Homo sapiens: one gene and its partners. The gene in region 3 interacts genetically with the main gene of each other region. Each region holds a gene or a part of one and is shown on either strand. Other genes may lie near its edges.

What was found. Genes that interact genetically often act in the same process or in processes that back each other up.
Region 1: changes in NDUFA9 (region 3) and MTOR together harm fitness more than expected from each alone (negative genetic interaction), as found in Homo sapiens cells (one large-scale study listed by BioGRID).
Region 2: changes in NDUFA9 (region 3) and MED24 together harm fitness more than expected from each alone (negative genetic interaction), as found in Homo sapiens cells (one large-scale study listed by BioGRID).
Region 4: changes in NDUFA9 (region 3) and XPO1 together harm fitness more than expected from each alone (negative genetic interaction), as found in Homo sapiens cells (one large-scale study listed by BioGRID).

What each region holds. Positions count from the first base shown.
Region 1 is NC_000001.11:11,108,461-11,112,577, forward strand, and holds part of MTOR (serine/threonine-protein kinase mTOR), read right to left. Parts: intron 1,270-4,117; coding exon 1,189-1,269; intron 911-1,188; coding exon 830-910; intron 1-829. UniProt on the Homo sapiens protein: Serine/threonine protein kinase which is a central regulator of cellular metabolism, growth and survival in response to hormones, growth factors, nutrients, energy and stress signals.
Region 2 is NC_000017.11:40,043,576-40,047,934, forward strand, and holds part of MED24 (mediator of RNA polymerase II transcription subunit 24), read right to left. Parts: intron 1-4,359. UniProt on the Homo sapiens protein: Component of the Mediator complex, a coactivator involved in the regulated transcription of nearly all RNA polymerase II-dependent genes.
Region 3 is NC_000012.12:4,661,854-4,666,922, forward strand, and holds part of NDUFA9 (NADH dehydrogenase [ubiquinone] 1 alpha subcomplex subunit 9, mitochondrial precursor), read left to right. Parts: intron 1-679; coding exon 680-782; intron 783-5,069. UniProt on the Homo sapiens protein: Accessory subunit of the mitochondrial membrane respiratory chain NADH dehydrogenase (Complex I), that is believed not to be involved in catalysis. Required for proper complex I assembly.
Region 4 is NC_000002.12:61,492,524-61,496,882, forward strand, and holds part of XPO1 (exportin-1), read right to left. Parts: coding exon 4,356-4,359; intron 3,091-4,355; coding exon 2,932-3,090; intron 1,569-2,931; coding exon 1,371-1,568; intron 531-1,370; coding exon 392-530; intron 226-391; coding exon 44-225; intron 1-43. UniProt on the Homo sapiens protein: Mediates the nuclear export of cellular proteins (cargos) bearing a leucine-rich nuclear export signal (NES) and of RNAs.

The DNA of each region.
Region 1 (4,117 bases), on a different chromosome or scaffold from region 3:
CCCAGCACTTTAGGAGGCTGAGGCAGGCAGATCACCTGAGGTCAGGAGTTCAACACCAGCCTGGCCAACATGGTGAAACCCTGTCTTTACTAAAAATACAAAATTAGCCGAGTGTGGTGGCACATGCCTGTAGTCCCAGCTACTTGGGAGCCTGAGGCAGGAGAATCACTTGAACCTGGAAGGTGGAGGTTGCAGTGGGCCAAGATCGCACCACTGCACTCCAGCCTGGGTGACAGAGCAAGACCCTGTCTCAAAAAAAAAAAAAAAAAAGAAAAGAAAAAAAGAAAAATTCGGCCGGGTGCGGTGGGTGAATCACTTGAGGTCAGGAGTTTGAGACCAGCCTGCCCAACATGGTGAAACCCCATCTCTACTAAAAACACAAAAAATTAGCTGGGCGTGCACCTGTAATCCCAGCTACTCGGGAGGCTGAGGCAGGAGAATTGTTTGAACCTGGGAGGCAGAGGTTGCAGTGAGCCAAGATGGAGCCACTGAACTCCAGACTGGGCAATAAGAGCAAAACTGTCTCAAACAAACAAAAAAAAGACATGATTAAAAAACACTTCTCTGAATTTGGCTGATTTTGGACCCAAAAGAAATTTATTCACCTCCTGAGTTAAATGAGATTAAACTAACATTAAGTACTGTTATCAGTCATCAGAAAGAAGAATCAGAGACAATGTTTAACTGATGACCTCAAAGACACTCTTTGTCAGCTGCATGGTGCCAAAGCTCGTCACTAACACCACTGGACATGGGGCTGACCACCACTCAGAGAGGAAAGTGTGCTCAGATTTTATGTCCCTTTTAAGTAAACACATGACACACTCACCAGTGAGCTTATCTCGAACCCTGTTAATAATCTGGATAGCTTTCTTATTTAGGGCCTCTGGTTTCACCAAACCGTCTCCAACTGGAATACACAAAAGTAGAAATAACTGTAAGAATGGGAGCAATACAACAGGTTCAATGGGTGCCCTGTTTTTCTCAAATATTCACTTTTGTAAGTGTTAAGCAATCCTTCCTCTATGTCCGTCTTTGTCCTCAGAATATAATGAGAAATTCATGGAACCTTTTCTGCTCAAAGGCAGTTTTGTTGCTTCATCTTGTTGACCCCTCTCAGGGTATAACACAGCTGCTATTTTCTTAATGAGCTAGTCACTGGTGCGGTTCCTCAGAGGCTGAACTTACTGAAAGAATGAATAGATTCTGGCACTGTGGTCCCCGTTTTCTTATGGGCTGGCTCTCCAAGTTCCACACCGTCCAAAATTTCTATGGGAAAAGAAATCAATTAACAGAAAATTCAAACACCAAAAAGCCACTGTTGGTGTTAGCATCTAATTCTCTACGCACTCTATTCCTTTAACGCCTGCCCTACCTACCCTAAAGGGGAAAAGAGAAGGAAAGTTTTATGTTACTCTTTATGTATTTCAAAGTTTTAAGCTGGACATAGCTGTAATCTCAGCTACTCAAGAGGCTGAGGTGGAAGGATCACTTGAGTAGCTGAGTTCAAGACCAGCCTGAGACTCCATTTGCAAAAAAAAAAAAAAAAATTTTTAAATCTGTAAAGCCATTTTCAAATGTGAGTTAATAATTATTGAAAAAATTTGGTGCTTATCAGAATTGAAACATGGATTTTCAGGCAAATTGCATTAACAAAATAAACTCATAGGAATAAGAACAGGTCAAAAGCCTCGTGACAAAATGTGTTTGGACAAAAACTGATAAAGAAAATTAACTTCGGAATGTGTCACACACAAGGTTGAAATGTTATTCCTTGGAGGAATTTTCATATCAGCTCTGGGTAGAAAAAGTCCTCAGGTGTTAGGTTCACCCTCCACTGATTATGGCTTTTAGCAGAGAAGAGTCTGAAATCAGAATTATGAAGTTTTTTGAATGCTGTCCTTGTACATCACAGACCTTCTGAATGAAGGTAGTGATAATTATACTTCTTTTTTTTTTGAGACGGAGTTTCGCTCTTGTTGCCCAGGCTGGAGTGCAGTGGCATGATATCGGCTCACTGCAACCTCTGCCTCTCAGGTTCAAGAGATTCTCCTGCCTCCCGAGTAGCTGGGATTACAGGCATGCGCTACCATGCCTGGCTTATTTTGTATTTTTAGTACAGATGGGGTTTCTCCATGTCGGTCAAGCTGGTCTCAAACTCTTGACCTCAGGTGATCCGCCTGCCTGGGCCTCCCAAAGTACTGGGATTATAGGCATGAACCACCGCACCCGGGTGATAGTTATACTTCTATTAATGATCCATTGGAAGTTCTTTTTTTTGAGACAGGGTCTTGCTGTGTTGCCCAGGCTAGTCTCAAACTCCTGGGCTCAAGTGCTCCTCCTGGGCTTACAGGTGTGCACCACAACACCCAGCTGGAATTTAACTTTTAAGCTAAACAACCAAATCCACCACCATCTGGTGCCAGCAGAACTGGCTGTCCTAGTTCCCTTCTGTATGCTACAGACAGCATATAGTAGCCACTTGAGAATTGTTAGGGAGGTGGGCCCTGAGAATGAAGCCAGTAAGTCTCAGCACACTTCGTTTGAGACCAGCCACCAGTATAAGCTCCCCCAGAGACTGTGTGTCCTATGAGCCTGGTGATTCAGGCATTCACAAATCCTGTCACAGTGTCCATGTATGACATTATAAGCCAGTATCCCAATTTCTTGCCTGAAACACCCTTTTCCTTTCTACCCATCAGATTCCACCCATCCAATAAGGATAAATTACCCTTTGGCAAGGTGGGGTGGCTCATGCCTGTAATCCCAGCACTTTGGGAGGCCGAGGCGGGCAGATCACTTGAGGTCAGGAGTTCGAAACCAGCCTGGCCAACGTGGTGAAACCCTATCTCTACTAAAAATTCAAAAAAATTAGCTGAGCATGGTGGCATGCGTCTGTAATCCCAGCTACTTGGGAGACTGAGGCAGGAGAATTGCTTGAACTCGGGAGGCAGAGGTTGCAGCGAGCCGAGACTGCGCCACCATACTCCAGCCTGGGTGACAAAGCGAGACTCTGTCTCAAGAAAAAAAAAAAAAAAAGAAAGAAAAATTACCCTTTGTCAGGTGAAGTGATGGTTAGATGCCACCAACCCAAGTGCTCTCTTCGCAGCTACGGTTCACAGTGAAGTCCCCTTTTCTGAATCTCCACAGCCCTACTCCACACGAAAGCACCCGCAGGCTCCACGGCAGAGTCTCCTGCTCTCTGACTATTTCACGCAGGTTATGGTCAATTCTGTAATGCTTTCTGTGCTTCTTCAGGCGACCACTGTACCTCACATTTTCTTTTTGCACCCCTAGACATTATTTGGCTTAGTTTATTAACTAGTTGTAAGTGCTCTGTAAACATTTGTAGAAAAGATATACTTTTTTACACCCTAACAGTAATTCCCAAAGTATGAACTATGTAGGGTGTTGCTAAATGTCACGAAGGAAAAAAGGGGTGGGATGGGGAGTGCGGGGAAGAGGGGAGGGCTAAACAAAGTTAAACAATTTTACTCAAAAACAAACAAACAAACAAACAAAAAAACCCCCCAAAACCAGTAACTTCAATGCTGTGTGTGCTGGAAACTAATACAAATAAAATAAAAGTTAAACAGCTTGACTCAAACACTCCTGAGAGGTTTCCACACACAAAAAGGACTCTGGCTCTCAGAGGGACACAAGTCTTCTAGACCCCTGCTCTGTGAGTCGCGCTCCTAGAAACACTGTTCCATGTGGTTCCAGGGTTCCTCCCAGCAACGCAAATAAATTTCTGCTGCTTCCATCTTCCCATTTCTGAGCTATTATCAATGCTTGAGGACCAAGGTAATACTGTTAATAATTATTCCAACCCAGACACCATTAGTGAGCTGATATTCAGACATACTTTAAACTGTGTTTTTACAGATAGATTAAAATCAGATAGTTTGATAAAAATCTCAGAGCTTCAGGTACCCACTCCATGTGTGAAACAGTAAATAAAAAACATATTAGCTGCTTGGTGCTCAGTAAATATTTCTAGACCAAGTATTTGAAGTTCAATTAAATGCTTATCAGGTGATAAGCTAGCAGTAATAGCACCTTTGCAAAACTATCACTGTCAAGAACCACGAGAAAACTAGATTTACTTCCTTCATGT
Region 2 (4,359 bases), on a different chromosome or scaffold from region 3:
TAAGGATTTTTCTGCTTCAAAGATTTAAATAAGCCAGGCGCGGTGGCTCACGTCTGTAATCCCAGCACTTTGGGAGGCCGAGGCGGGCGGATCACGAGGTCAGGAGATCGAGACCATCCTGGCTAACACTTTCGTGAAACCCCATCTCTACTAAAAATACAAAAAATTAGCCAGGCGCAGTGGCGGGCGCCTGTAATCCCAGCTACTCAGGAGGCTGAGGCAGGAGAATGGCATGAACCCGGGAGGTGGAGCTTGCAGTGAACCGAGATACTGCCACTGCAGTCCGGCCTGGGCAGAAGAGCGAGACTCCATCTCAAAAAAAAAAAAAACAAAGATTTAAATATTAGGTTCGAGACCCGCCTGGCCAACATGGAGAAACCCTGTCTCTACTAAAAATACAAAGATTAGCCGGGCGTGGTGGCACCCGCCCATAGTCCCAGCTACTTGGAGGCTGAGGCAGGAGAATGGCTGGAACCGGGGAAGCTAAGGTTGCAATAAGCCGAGATCACACAGCTGCACTCCAGTCTGGATGAAGGAGTGAGACTCTGTCTCACAAAAAAAAAAAAAAAAGCCGTAACAAAAAAAAAAAATAGAAAAATAGGCAAATTATATATTTATTTGTGTATTTATGAATACATAAATTATGTATTCATAAATACATAGGCCGGGCGCAGTGGCTTACGCCTGTAATCCCAGCACTTTGGGAGTCCAAGGCGGGTGGACCACATGAGGTCAGGAGCTTGAGAACAGCCTCGCTAACATGGAGAATCCCCGTATCTACTAAAAATACAAAAATTAGCTGGGCATGGTGGCGCATGCCTGTAATCCCAGCTACTCGGGAGGCTGAGGCAGGAGAATTGCTTGAACCCGGGAGGCAGAGGTTGCAGTGAGCCAAGATTATGCCACTACACTCCAGCCTGGGCGACAGAGGGAGACTCCATCTCAAAAAAAAAAGAAAGAAAAGAAAATGCACATTATAATATGATATAATTATTTGCCTCTGGAAAAAGTTTTAAAAGATTCTGGCCAGGCGCGGTGGCTCACGCCTATAATCTCAGCACTTTGGGAGGCCGAGGTGGGCGGATCACGAGGTCAGGAGATCGAGACCATCCTGGCTAACAAGATGAAACGCATCTCTACTAAAAATACAAAAATTAGCCAGGCGTGGTCGTGGGCACCTGTAGTCCCAGCTACTTGGGAGGCTGAGGCAGGAGAATGGCGTGAATCCAGGAGGTGCAGCTTGCAGTGAGCCAAGATTGCACCACTGCACTCCAGCCTGGGCGACACAGCGAGACTCCATCTCAAAAAAAAAAAAAAAAATTATATCCAGCGTTGGCAAAGGTATGGGGAAATACTGTCAGACATTACGGATGGGGTATAACCTAATCCAATCATTTTCAGGGGGAAATTTGCAGGATCTACTATAATTTAGTATGTGTATATTCTTCAAATCAGATATTCCATTGTGAGGTATCCACCCTAGAGAAATACTTCCAGATATGCAGACAGGTAGGTATAAGGATATTCAGTGAAACATTGATTATAACAGTAAAAAATTACAAACAACCTAAATTAAAGTACATATGGGCTGGGCCAGGCACAGTGGCTCACGCCTGTGATCCCAGCACTTTGGGAGGCCGAGGCGGGCAGATCACTTGAGGTCAGGAGTTTGAGACCAGCCTGGCCAACATGATGAAACCCTGTCTCTACTAAAAATAAAAAAATGGGCCAGGTGTGGTGGTACATGCCTGTAATCCCAGCTACTTGGGAGGCTGAGGCAGGAGAATCACTTGAACCCAGCGGCGGGGACAGGAGGAGGTTGCAGTGAGCCAAGATCGTGCCACTGCTCTCCAGCCTGGGCGACAGAGCAAGACTTCATCTCAAAAAAAAAAAAAAAAGTACATATGGAATATTATGTAGCAGTGGTTTAGGGGTGAGCTCCATGGCTCACGCCTATAATCCCAACACTCTGGGAGGCCAAGGTGGGTAGATTGAGCTCAAGAGTTCAAGATGAGCCTGAGCAACATGGCGAAACCGTGTCTCTACACAAAATGCAAAAATTGGCCGGGTGTTTTGGTGCGCACCTGTAGTCCAAGCTACAGGTGCAGGAGGATGGCTTGAGCCAAGGAGGTCAAAGCTGCAGTGAGCCACTATTGTGCCACTGCACTCCAGCCTGGGCAACAAAGCAAGGATCCTGACTCTACACATTTTGTTTTTTTTGAGACAGAGTCTCGCTCTGTCAACCAGGCTGGAGTACAGTGGTTCGATCTTGGCTCACTCCAACCTCCGCCTCCTGGGTTCAAGTGATTCTCCTGCCTCAGCCTCCCGAGTAGCTGGGACTACACGTGCATGCCACCACACCCAGGTAATTTTTTGTATTTTTAGTAGAGATGGGGTTTCACCATGTTGGCCAGGATGGTCTCGGTCTCCTGACCTCATGATCCACCCGCCTCGGCCTCCCAAAGTGCTGGGATTACAGGCGTGAGCCATCACGCCCAGCCTCTAAAAAAAATTTTTTTTTTTTTTTTTGAGACGGAGTCTCACTGTTGCCCAGGCTGGAGCGCAGTGGCGCGATCTCTGCTCACTGCAAGCTCCGCCTCCCGGGTTCACGCCATTCTCCTGCCTCAGCCTCCCGAGTAGCTGGGACTATAGGCACCCGCCACCACGCCCGGCTAATTTTTTGTATTTTCAGTAGAGACGGGGTTTCACCATGTTAGCCAGGATGGTCTCGATCTCCTGACCTCGTGATCCGCCCGCCTCGGCCTCCCAAAGTTCCTGGGATTACAGGCATGATCCACTGCGCCCAGCCTAAAAAAATTTTTAATAAAAAAAAATATATATGTGTCAACTGAGAAATACTATTCAGCAGTTAAAAAATAAGAAGAAAAGGCCGGGCGCGGTGGCTCACGCCTGTAATCCCAGCACTTTGGGAGGCCGAGGCGGGCGGATCATGAGGTCAGGAGATCGAGACCATCCCGGCTAAAACGGTGAAACCCCGTCTCTACTAAAAAATACAAAAAATTAGCCGGGCGTAGTGGCGGGCGCCTGTAGTCCCAGCTACTTGGGAGGCTGAGGCAGGAGAATGGCGTGAACCCGGGAGGCGGAGCTTGCAGTGAGCCGAGATCCCGCCACTGCACTCCAGCCTGGGCGACAGAGCGAGACTCCGTCTCAAAAAAAAACAAGAAGAAGAAGAATGAGGCCAGGCATGGGTGGATCACACCTGTAATCACAGCACTTTGGGAGGCCAAGGCAGGAGGATCGCTTGAGCCCAGGAGTTTGATACCAGCCTGGGCAACAAAGGGAGACCCCGTCCCTACAAAAATGTAAAAATTATCAGCCTGGGCAACATAGGAAGATCCCATCTTTACAAAAAAATTTAAAAATTAGCCAGGCATGGTGGTGCATGACTGTAGTCCCAACTCCTTGGGAACCTGAGGTAGGAGGATTACTTGAGCCCAGAAGGATGAGGCTACAGGAAGCTGTGATCCTGCCATTGCACACTCCAGCCTGGGTAACAGAGCAAGACCCTGTTTCAAATTTAAAAAAATAAATAAAAAGAATGTACTATTAACATATACAACATAAATAATAAATCTCAAAAACATTTATGTTAAACAAAAGACAGTATACGAACTATATCCCATCTGACTACATTACTAAGAAATCCAAATAAAGGCAATTGTGGGAGAGGGGAGTGGACTAGAAAGCGGTAAAAGGGAACTTTCTGAGAGAACAGAAATGCTCTGTATCTTATTTTGGATGCTGGTGACATGGGTACATACAATTGCTAAAACTCACTAAATAGGCCAGGCGTGGTGGCTCATGCCTGTAATCCCAGCACTTTGGGAGGCTAAGGCAGGTGGATCACGAGGTCAGGAGTTCGAGACCAGCCTGACCAACATGGTGAAACCCCGTCTCTACTAAAAATACAAAAAAACTGGCCAGGCGTGGTGGAGGACACCTGTAATCCCAGCTACTCCGGAGGCTGAGGCAGGAGAATAGCTTGGACCTGGGAGGCGGAGGTTGCAGTGAGCTGAGATTGCCCTACTGCACTCCAGCCCAGGCAACAGAGCGAGACTCCATCTCATAAAAAAAAACAAAAAAACAAAAAACAAAAAACAACAACAAAAAAAAAACCCTGACTGAATTGATCTTAAGATGTTTGTATGTTCTGAGACGAAGTTTTGCTCGTTGCCCAGGCTGGAGCACAATGGCGCAATCTCGGTTCACTGCAACCTCCGCCTCCCAGGTTCAAGCAATTCTCCTGCTTCAGCCTCCTGAGTAGCTGGGATTACAGACGCCCACCACCATGCCCGGCTAATTTTTGTATATTTAGTAGAGACGGGGTTTCACCATGTT
Region 3 (5,069 bases):
TACAGTAGGTGGTGTAACCAAGTTAAGAGTGGTAGAGGTGGAAGGAAGAGGAGGTCGTTGGAGTTGAGCAGCTCAAGAACCTGAGAAGTCCAAGCCCACTTGGACATCATGTCACCTCCAGTGGTGGTGGAAGTAGAAAGGAAGACTGAATTAGGTGCTGATATCTTCATCGAACAAGAAGACTTGCCTAGGAGGCTAGTAGATGATAACAAGTAAGGATGGTACAGCAATTGAGATTAGGAGGATTAGTGACTCTATCCCCAACCTCCTTTGGATATGTAGGTACTGGTGACACTTCCATTATTGCAGCCTGCTGCCACCATACTGTCCTTTTTCTAACAGGCTGCTAGATGGTTGACACAAACCAGAGAATCTGTAAATAGAAGGAAAAATGGAGGCTGAAGAAATTCTACTTTGATTTTTCTCCTTCTTCAATGTAAGCTTCCCTTAAAATAAAAAAATTGGAAGAGACCCAACCCAATCTGTAAGGTGCAGGACATTTTTGTGGATTATATTTTTTAAAAGTTCTGTGTAACTGAGTTTTATGAATTACATGATTACCTTTATCTGGAGGAAAATATCGCCTTTGAAATACAAGTCATGTCTTAATAGTGGAAAGAATGGATGCTTTATTCACTTGTCTCTAAACTCAAAACAGGTTTGTTTGGTTATTGTTTAGGCTGTTGGAGAGAAAGTAGTGAGAGATGCATTTCCGGAAGCCATTATCGTAAAGCCGTCGGACATCTTTGGAAGAGAGGATAGATTCCTTAATTCTTTTGCAAGTACGTATTCTTTCTTAATGGTAGAAGAGAGGGATACTGATTAACCAAGTTGAAGCTGCTCAAGCTAACAGTTTTCTCTGATTGACAGACTAAGGATATATTTTTTCTTTCCCAGTTGCCTTTTCCTCCCCTAAGTTTATATTTTCATAGTCAATGTAGTCTTTGTTATATTCCATATCAAAAGAAGCAACTTAGATTAATGGAAAGAGCATGAACTTGGGAGTCAGAGACTTGAGTTTAAGTCTTGGCCCAGCTAACTCTGTGACCTTGGCAAATATTCGAATATCACATGGAATAGTTTCTCTATCCTAAAATCCCCTGTGTTATATGTATTGATTCTTACCCTCCTACCCACCCCTAACCCCAGACAACCACTGATCTTTTTATTGTCTCTATAGTTTTGCCTTTTCCAGGATATTACATATATGGTTAGAATCATTGCAGTATGTAGCCTTTTTAGGTGGACTTCTTTCACTTAGCAATATGCATTTAAGGTTCTTTCATTTCTTTTCATAGCTTGATAGCTCATTTCTTTATATAGCTAAATAGTATTCCATTGTGTATATTCCATTGTATTGGATATTGGTTTATCCAATTTAGATGTTTCTATCTTGTTTTTCCCCCTGTTGCTTGTGTCCACCTAACATCTGTAATAATTTCTACTTAAAAAAAATTGTGGCAAAATATACATAGTATAAAATTTCCCATCTGCTATGGGCTAAATTGCGCCCCCTCATAATTCGTATGTTGAAGCCTTAACACCATTGTGAATTTATTTGGAGTTAGGACTTTTGGAGGAAATTGAGGTTAAATGAGGCCATAAGGGTGAGGTCGTAATTCAGTAGGATTGGTGACCTTATAAGAAGAGGCAAAAAGAGAGATCTCTCTCTCCCTGTGTGCACATACTGAGGAAAGGCCATATGTGAGGACACAGCAAGAAATCTGCTGTCTACAAGCCAGGAAGAGAGCCCTTATCAGGAACCAAACTGGCTGGCACTTTGATCTTGAATTTGCCAGCCTCCAGAACTGTGAGAAAATACATTTTTATTGTACAAGCCACCCAGTCTATGGTATTTTGTTATGGTAGCCTGAGCAGACCAAAATAGATTTTGGTACCAAGAAGTGGGGTGCTGCTGTAGCAAATACCTAAAAATGTGAACGTGCCTTTGGAACTATGTAAAGGTAGAGGCTAGAAGAGTTTTGAGGTACCTGGTAGAAATATGGACGTTAAGGGTGATTTTTGTAAGGTCTCAGATGGAAATGAGTAAGATGTCATTGGAAACTGGAGGAAAGGTGATCCATATAATAAAATGGCAAAGAAATTGGCTGATCTGTGTGTGTTCTAGTGGAAGGTAGAACTTGTGAGTGATGAAATTGTTTATTCAGCTGAGAAGATTTCTAAGTACAAAGTATTGAAGAAATGCCTTGGTTCCTCCCGACTGCTTACAACAGAATAGAAAAAGAGAGAAAGAGGAAATGAAGAAGGACTTGTTAAGCAAAAAGGAACCGGAACCTGAAGATTTGGAAAATTCTCAGCTTATCCATATTGCAAAAAATGAGAAAGCTTGTTTTGAAGAGAACACTAAGAGTGTGGCTGAACAACCATTTGATGAAGAGATTGTGGATGCGACTCACCAACTAACAAGCTATCTTGGCAGAAGCCAGGAATAGAGATGAGATTACATCAGCAAAGTCACCACCAGTTTGAACTAGAAGGGGCAGAATGAAAGAAGCCTGTCTGACTTCTGATATCCTACAGGACCAGACCACAGAGCTATTTGGCTGTGAATTTGAGCTATTCTTCAAGAAAAGGGAAGAATGACCCCAAAAGGGGTTCAGAGATGTTTAGAACTATCTCTTTGGTTTCAAAGGATGGGGCCATTGCCTCAGTTTAAACACCACATGGCCTTTGTCAGAGGCCTTGGAGGTGGGACCACCCAGAGTCTTGGAGGTACAGCTGCCTGATCCTTGGGGCTACAGCCCCCTGGAACCTTTGAGGTGTTGACCCTCTGCCCAGGAGAGCTATTGGGGTGGGGCTGCTGCCCCAGTAGGTCCTAGAAGTTAGAACTACCGCTTCAGTGGGTCCTGAAGGTGAGACCACCACCTCTGTGAATCTAGAAGGCAATGCATCTAGGCAAAGAAGATTATTGATTTTTAGTAGCCACCCTAATAGGTGGTGTTTCATTGTGTGTGTGTTTTTATTAGATTCTAAAATCTAATAGAATTTACCTTGCTAAGTTTTGGACTTACTTGGGAGTTGTTACCCTTTCTTTCTTACGTCTTCCTTTTAGAATAGGAATGTCTATCTTATGCCTGTCTCACGGCTGTATTTTGGAAGCACATAACTTGTCTGGTTTCACATGTTCATAGTTAGGAATTTTGCCTCAGGATGACCCACACCTTGAGTCTTACCTATATCTGATTTAGATAATATTTGGATGCGACTTTGGAGTTTAGAGTCTTGAGACTAAGACAAGATTAAGACCCTTTTAACTATTTGTAAGAGTACAGTTCAGTAGTATTAAGATATTTACATTGTTGTACAACCAATCCCCAGAACTTTTTCATCTTGTAAAACTGAAATTCTGTACCCCTTAAACAACTCTCTGTTCCCTCCTTCCCCCCAGCCCCTGGCAACTACCATTCTGCTTTTGGTTTCTATGAATTTGACCACCTCATATAAGTGGAATCATACAGTATTTGTCTTTTCGTAGCTGGCTTATTTGACTTAGCATAATATGCTCAAGGTGCATTCCTGTTGTACCACGTGATGTGATTTCCTTCCTACTGAAGGCTGAATAATATTCTGTGATATGTCTATACCACATTTTGTTTAATAAGCCATCCATCAATGGATACTTGGATTTCTTCCCACTTTTGGCTATTGTGAATAATGCTGCAATGACCATGGATGTACGAAATATCCCTGATTTCAGTTATTTGGTGTATGTACTGAGAAGTGGAATTCTGTAGCATATGGTATATCTATTTTTACTTTTTCGACAAGCCACCATAGTGTATTCCACAGTGGCTGCACCATTTTACATTGCCACCAACAGTGCACAAGGTTTCCACTTTCTCCAGATCTTTGTCAATATTTGTTATTTTCTGTTTTTTTTTTTTTTTATAATAGCCATCCTAATAGTTCTAAGGTGGTATTTCATTGTGTGTGGTTTTTTTGTTTTTGTTTTTGAGATTGGGTCTTGCTCTGTCACCTAGGCAGTGATACAATCACAGCTCACTGCAGCCTTGAACTCCTGGGCTCAGGGGATCCTCTTGCCTCAGTTTCCTACATAGGTGGGACTAGAGGTGTGTACCACCACACCTGGCTTAAAAAATATATATATTTTTGTAGAGACAGGTCTTGCTCTCTTGCCCGGGCTGGACTCAAACTCCTGGCCTCAAGCAGTCTTTTTGCCCCAGCCTCCCAAAGTTCTAGGATTATAGGCATGGGCCACCACGCCTGGCAACAATGTGGTTTTGATTTATGTTTTCCTAATGATTAGTGATGTTGAGCATCTTTTCATGTGCTTTTTGGCTACTTTATTATTTGGAGAAATGTCTGTTCATGTCCTTGGCTAATTTTTAAAATTGGGTTGTTTATTTTTTGTTATTGAGTTGTAGGAGTTTTTTTATTTATTCAGAACATTAAATACTTATCAGATATGTGATTTGTAAAATTTTCTCTCATTTTTTAGTTTGTCTCTTCACTCTGTTAATTGTGTTCTTTGATGCACAGAAGTTTTAATTTTGATGTAGTCAGGCTTATCTATTTTTACTTTTGTTGCCTGTGCTTTTAGTATTGTATCTAAGGAGTCGTTGCCAAGTCCAATGCCATGAAGCTTTCTCCTTTTGTTTTTGTCTAAGAGTTTTAGAGTTTTAGCTCTTAGGTTTAGGTCTTTGATCCATTTTGACTTAGTTTTTGTATATGGTATGAGGTAAGGGTCCAATTTTATTCTTTTGCATGTGGTTATCCAGTATGTTGAAAAGATTATCTTTCCCCATTGAATGGTCTTGGTGCTTTTGTCAGAAATCATTTGACCATATATGCAAGAGTTATTTTTCTCTATTCCATTGCTCTGTATGTTTTTCTTTACGCCACTGTTTTGATCACTACACTGTTTTGATTACTGTGCCTTTGTAGTAAGTTTTGAAATCAGAAAGTGTGTGAGACTTCCAAAAATTTGTTCTTTTTCAAGATTGTTTTGGCTATTTAAAGGAATCCCTTTAAATGTCATATGAATTTTAGGATGGAGTTTTCTATATTTTTGCAAAAATAAAAAGCCA
Region 4 (4,359 bases), on a different chromosome or scaffold from region 3:
ATACTTATTTAGCAATTCTAATTCATACCTATCCCTTGCATACCTTTATAACAGTAACAAGAAATCGTTTTTCGTCCTCTTCATGCATTGCTCCACTAATGGAGCCTATTGCCCAACACAATGTATTCAAATTTTTCCATGACCACTCTGTACCATTCACTTGATTGTGAAGCTTCTCTGTCATTATTCTTTCTGTATCTACATAATCCAGATGAGTAAGATAAACTACAAAGAAAAACATGGTTTCAAATGCAAATAATGAGCAGAATTTTATTGATGAGTAACAATACATTTAGAAAATATTTAGAAACTACAAGTACATTTCCTAAAATGTATTTCCACCCCAGAATAGATTTATAAAGGTAAAGATTAACAGTATTTATTAACTTACCCAATGTTTCCCTCATATTCTTATACAAATTTATGGAATCTGTATCCTTCATGAATTCTCTCACAACTTCTCCTTGATCATTCTCTACAACCAATACTTCCTCTGGTTTAGCCATTCGACTAACCATTAATAAACGGACCTATACTCAACAATATATCAATCAAGAAAAAAATCGTTAGATCACTGAAATCATTAGTGTAGAAGCTTAGTTAAAAACAAACAAAACCAAAAAAACCACAAGCCAGCCATGTGTAGGGATTCATGCCTATAATTCCAACTATTCCGGAGGGCCGAGGCAAAAAGAACTGTTGTGGCCAGGAATTTGAGAGCAGCTTGAGCAACACAAAATGACACCCAATCTCTAAAACAATAAAAATACTGGGGCTTAAAGCACAACAGAAAAAACTATGTAAATATAAATGAAGTAAAACTAAAAAATTTAAAATTTGCTAGGCATGGTGGTGTGTGCCTGCAACCAATTACTTGGGAGGCTGACACAAGAGAATTGCTTTAGTCTAGGAGTTCAAGATTGTAGTGAGCTATGACCACGCCACTGCACTCCAACCTGAGCCACAGAGCAAGACCCTGTCTCCAAAAGAAAAAATTTTTTTTCACTGTAATTCTACAAAAATGGCTTTATAATTATTTAAGTGTGTTTTAATGTGATTTTTTTAACCAACTTCTGTTACAGGAGTTTCCTGTGTCTCATTCCTAGACTCTGGTTTAGTAGATTGGCAGGTGGCCAATGAATTTGCCTAACGAAATCACAACCAATGTTGATACTGAGAGAAGGACCACACTCTTGAGAATCAAGGTTCTAGACTCAACTCCTTTCATGTTCTAGTTTTCCACACTCATGGAGAAGTTGTTGGGTTCTCTTTTTATAGCTAATTTATTTACACAGATTAGAAGTATTTGGATTCAGACCTCAAAACCACAGTATGCAACAGGAAGAACACTCAACCAACCGCTCTGTTACCTTGAATAACATGGGCAAATATAGCTGTCTCCTGGGAGGAACATCAAAATGTTGACTTCCAGAAAGCAACGGAGAGGCAGATGTAGAGAATGGACTCTCTCTATAGAGTTCAGCAGCCAAATGATTCCAGTATTCAAGACAAATTTTAAAGATTTCAGTTTCTTCTACTTCAGATACCAACAACATATAATGAAGGGCCTACACAGAAGACCAAAACTGTTAAAATAATTCTTAAACATTACCAACTTCAAATTGCTTTTCACTTGTTACACCTTAAGGGAAAATAAAAATTCATGTTTTATTCATCACAACTCAGATTTCAATACTTATCAAATAGACAGCAAACTCTGGAGTAACTCTGCTTCTTCTGACATGCCCTAAAGCACTTCAAAAATCTCTCACATAGTAGTTGATCAATATGTATTTTTATCATGTCTCCTAATGGAACGACATTTATTTAAAAGGCCTTGGGTGCCAATAAGTGGTATCACAACCCAAATGTACCATCACAGAGGAGAGAACAAACAAAATACTGAATATTCATACAATGAGAATATTCTTCAGACATGATAAAAAGTGAGGTATTGATACAGGTTACAACATGGAAGAACATTGAAAACACAACACCAAATAAAAGAAACCAGACACAAAAGGTCACATGCATGATTCCCTTTATATGGTATAATCAGAATAGATATATCTACAGAGACAGAAACCAAAATAATGGTTGCCAGAAGTTGGGGAGAGAACAAAGGAGAAAGTGACTGTTTTAGGGGTAAAGGGTCACCTTCGGGTGATGAAAATGTTTTGGATCTAGGTATTAATGGTTGTATAACATTGTATATATACTAATATGCCACTGAATTGTGTGTGTGTGTGTATATATATATATACTTATGTTTATATATATATATACTTAAGTTTATATATATATATAAAGAGAGAGAGAGAGACATTTTCTTCCTTCAGACAGAGTCTTGCTCTGTCACTCAGGCTGGAGTGCAGTACTGTGATCTTGGCTCACTGCAACCTCAGCCTACTGGGCTAAAGCAATTCCTGTGCTTCAGCCTCCTGAGGAGCTGGGATTACAGTCATGTGACACCACGCACAGCTAATTTTTTTGTATTTTTAATAGAGACAGAGATTCACGATGTAGGCCAGGCTGGTCTCGAACTCCTGCCTCAAGTGATCCACCCACCTCCGCCTCCCAAAGTGCTGGGATTACACGATGAATTGTATATCTTTAAATGAACAAATGCATGTTATTTGAATTAAAACTGAAATTTTAAAATAAGGTCTTTGAAATTTTAACCTTAGAAATGATATAATAATTAGTAATTTAATTTTGATTATAAATTTTTAGTCCTAGCTTTATGGAGAACATAAAATCAGAAAACTGGGCTTATAACTGTAATTCAGAATTGAGAATATATATAATGTACTGATCAAATATTAAGTAATAAGAAATCTCAAAAGGTACATACATTTTAGAAAAAGGCACTTTTAAGAGTTATTAGTAGGCAGAGCAGAATTTTAGGAGCAAAAGCTCCACATATCTTACCTCCATAAGAGTTTCCCTGAGATTTAATCTTTTTTCTATAAGTTGATCATGTTCCTTAAGAAAGGTGCAGAGAAACAAACTGAGATTTTGAATGAAGTTCTGTTCATCATCTTTTCCATTTGAGTACGCAAGTCGAATATTGGTATTTAAAGGAAGCATCTGCAAATTTTAAAAGGGACGATCAGTTCGCATTTTATAAAACAACTAAAGACACTTAATATTTTATTATTATTTTTTTGAGACAAGGTATCACTCTGTCCAGGCTGGAGTGCAGTGGTATGACCAAAGCTCACTGCAGCCTCCACCTCCTAGGCCCAATCAGTCCTCCTCAGCCCCTCCCGAGTAGCTGGAACCACAGGTATGTGCCATCGCACTAAGCTTATTTTTAACATTTTTGTAGAGACGGTATCTTGTTATGTTGTCCAGGCTGGTCTCAAACTCCTGGCTCAAGCAATCCTCCCACCTTAGCCTCCCAAAGTGCTGGGATTAAAGGTCTGAGCTATTGCACTCAGCCAACACTATTATTTTTAAGCCCTAATATCCCAACACCCTTTTGCTAATATTAAACCACATACAGAACTCCTAGGTCCAGTATACCTATTCTTATATCTCTAGGACTTAGATTTTGACTCTTCTCAAATAAATTAAAGGCCGCTATCACAGCCTTTAAATTTTTCTAGTATTTCTCACTGACATTGAAAAATGTAAAAATAATCAATTCATTCATTCAGATCACAAACATACATAGTAATCTATCTTTCCTTGTTTTTTAAAAGAGACAGGGATTTACCCTGTCATCCAGGCTGGAGTGCAATAGTGTGACCATAGCTCATTTTAACTTTGTATTAATAGGCTCAAGCGATCCTATTGCCTCAGCCTCCAGAGTAGCTGGAACTACAGGTGTGCAACACCACAGCTAGCTATTTTTTAAATCTTTCGTAGGTATGGTCTGGTTATGTTGTCCTGGCTGGTCTCGAACTCCTGGCATCAACTGGTCCTCCCATTCTGGCCTCCCAAAGTTCTGGGATTACAGTATTAACCACCATGCCTGGCCATGAACACAGTATTATGAATAACCTTCTAGATCATTTAATAGATAACCAATCAAACTAGGGCTGAAAAGAATTCCTTCAGACACAATGTTAGGAACAAGTCCCAGGTTTCCCACTGTCTGGTCAGGTATCTCCCAAAAGACCAAGCTCCTAAAGTGTGCAGAAATAAATTACCACAACACACCCCAAACCTGAATTTTAAGAAATTTTTGGAAACATCATAAAAATTTGTAGCTTACTACAAATTTTATGTAATAAACAAAAGATTATGGCTTATCTTTGATACGTCGTTCTAAAATAACTCATTTGGAATTTGGTATTTTCTAAGGCACTAAAATTATTCAGCCAATTTTCAAGATAGTATTATATTACCTGC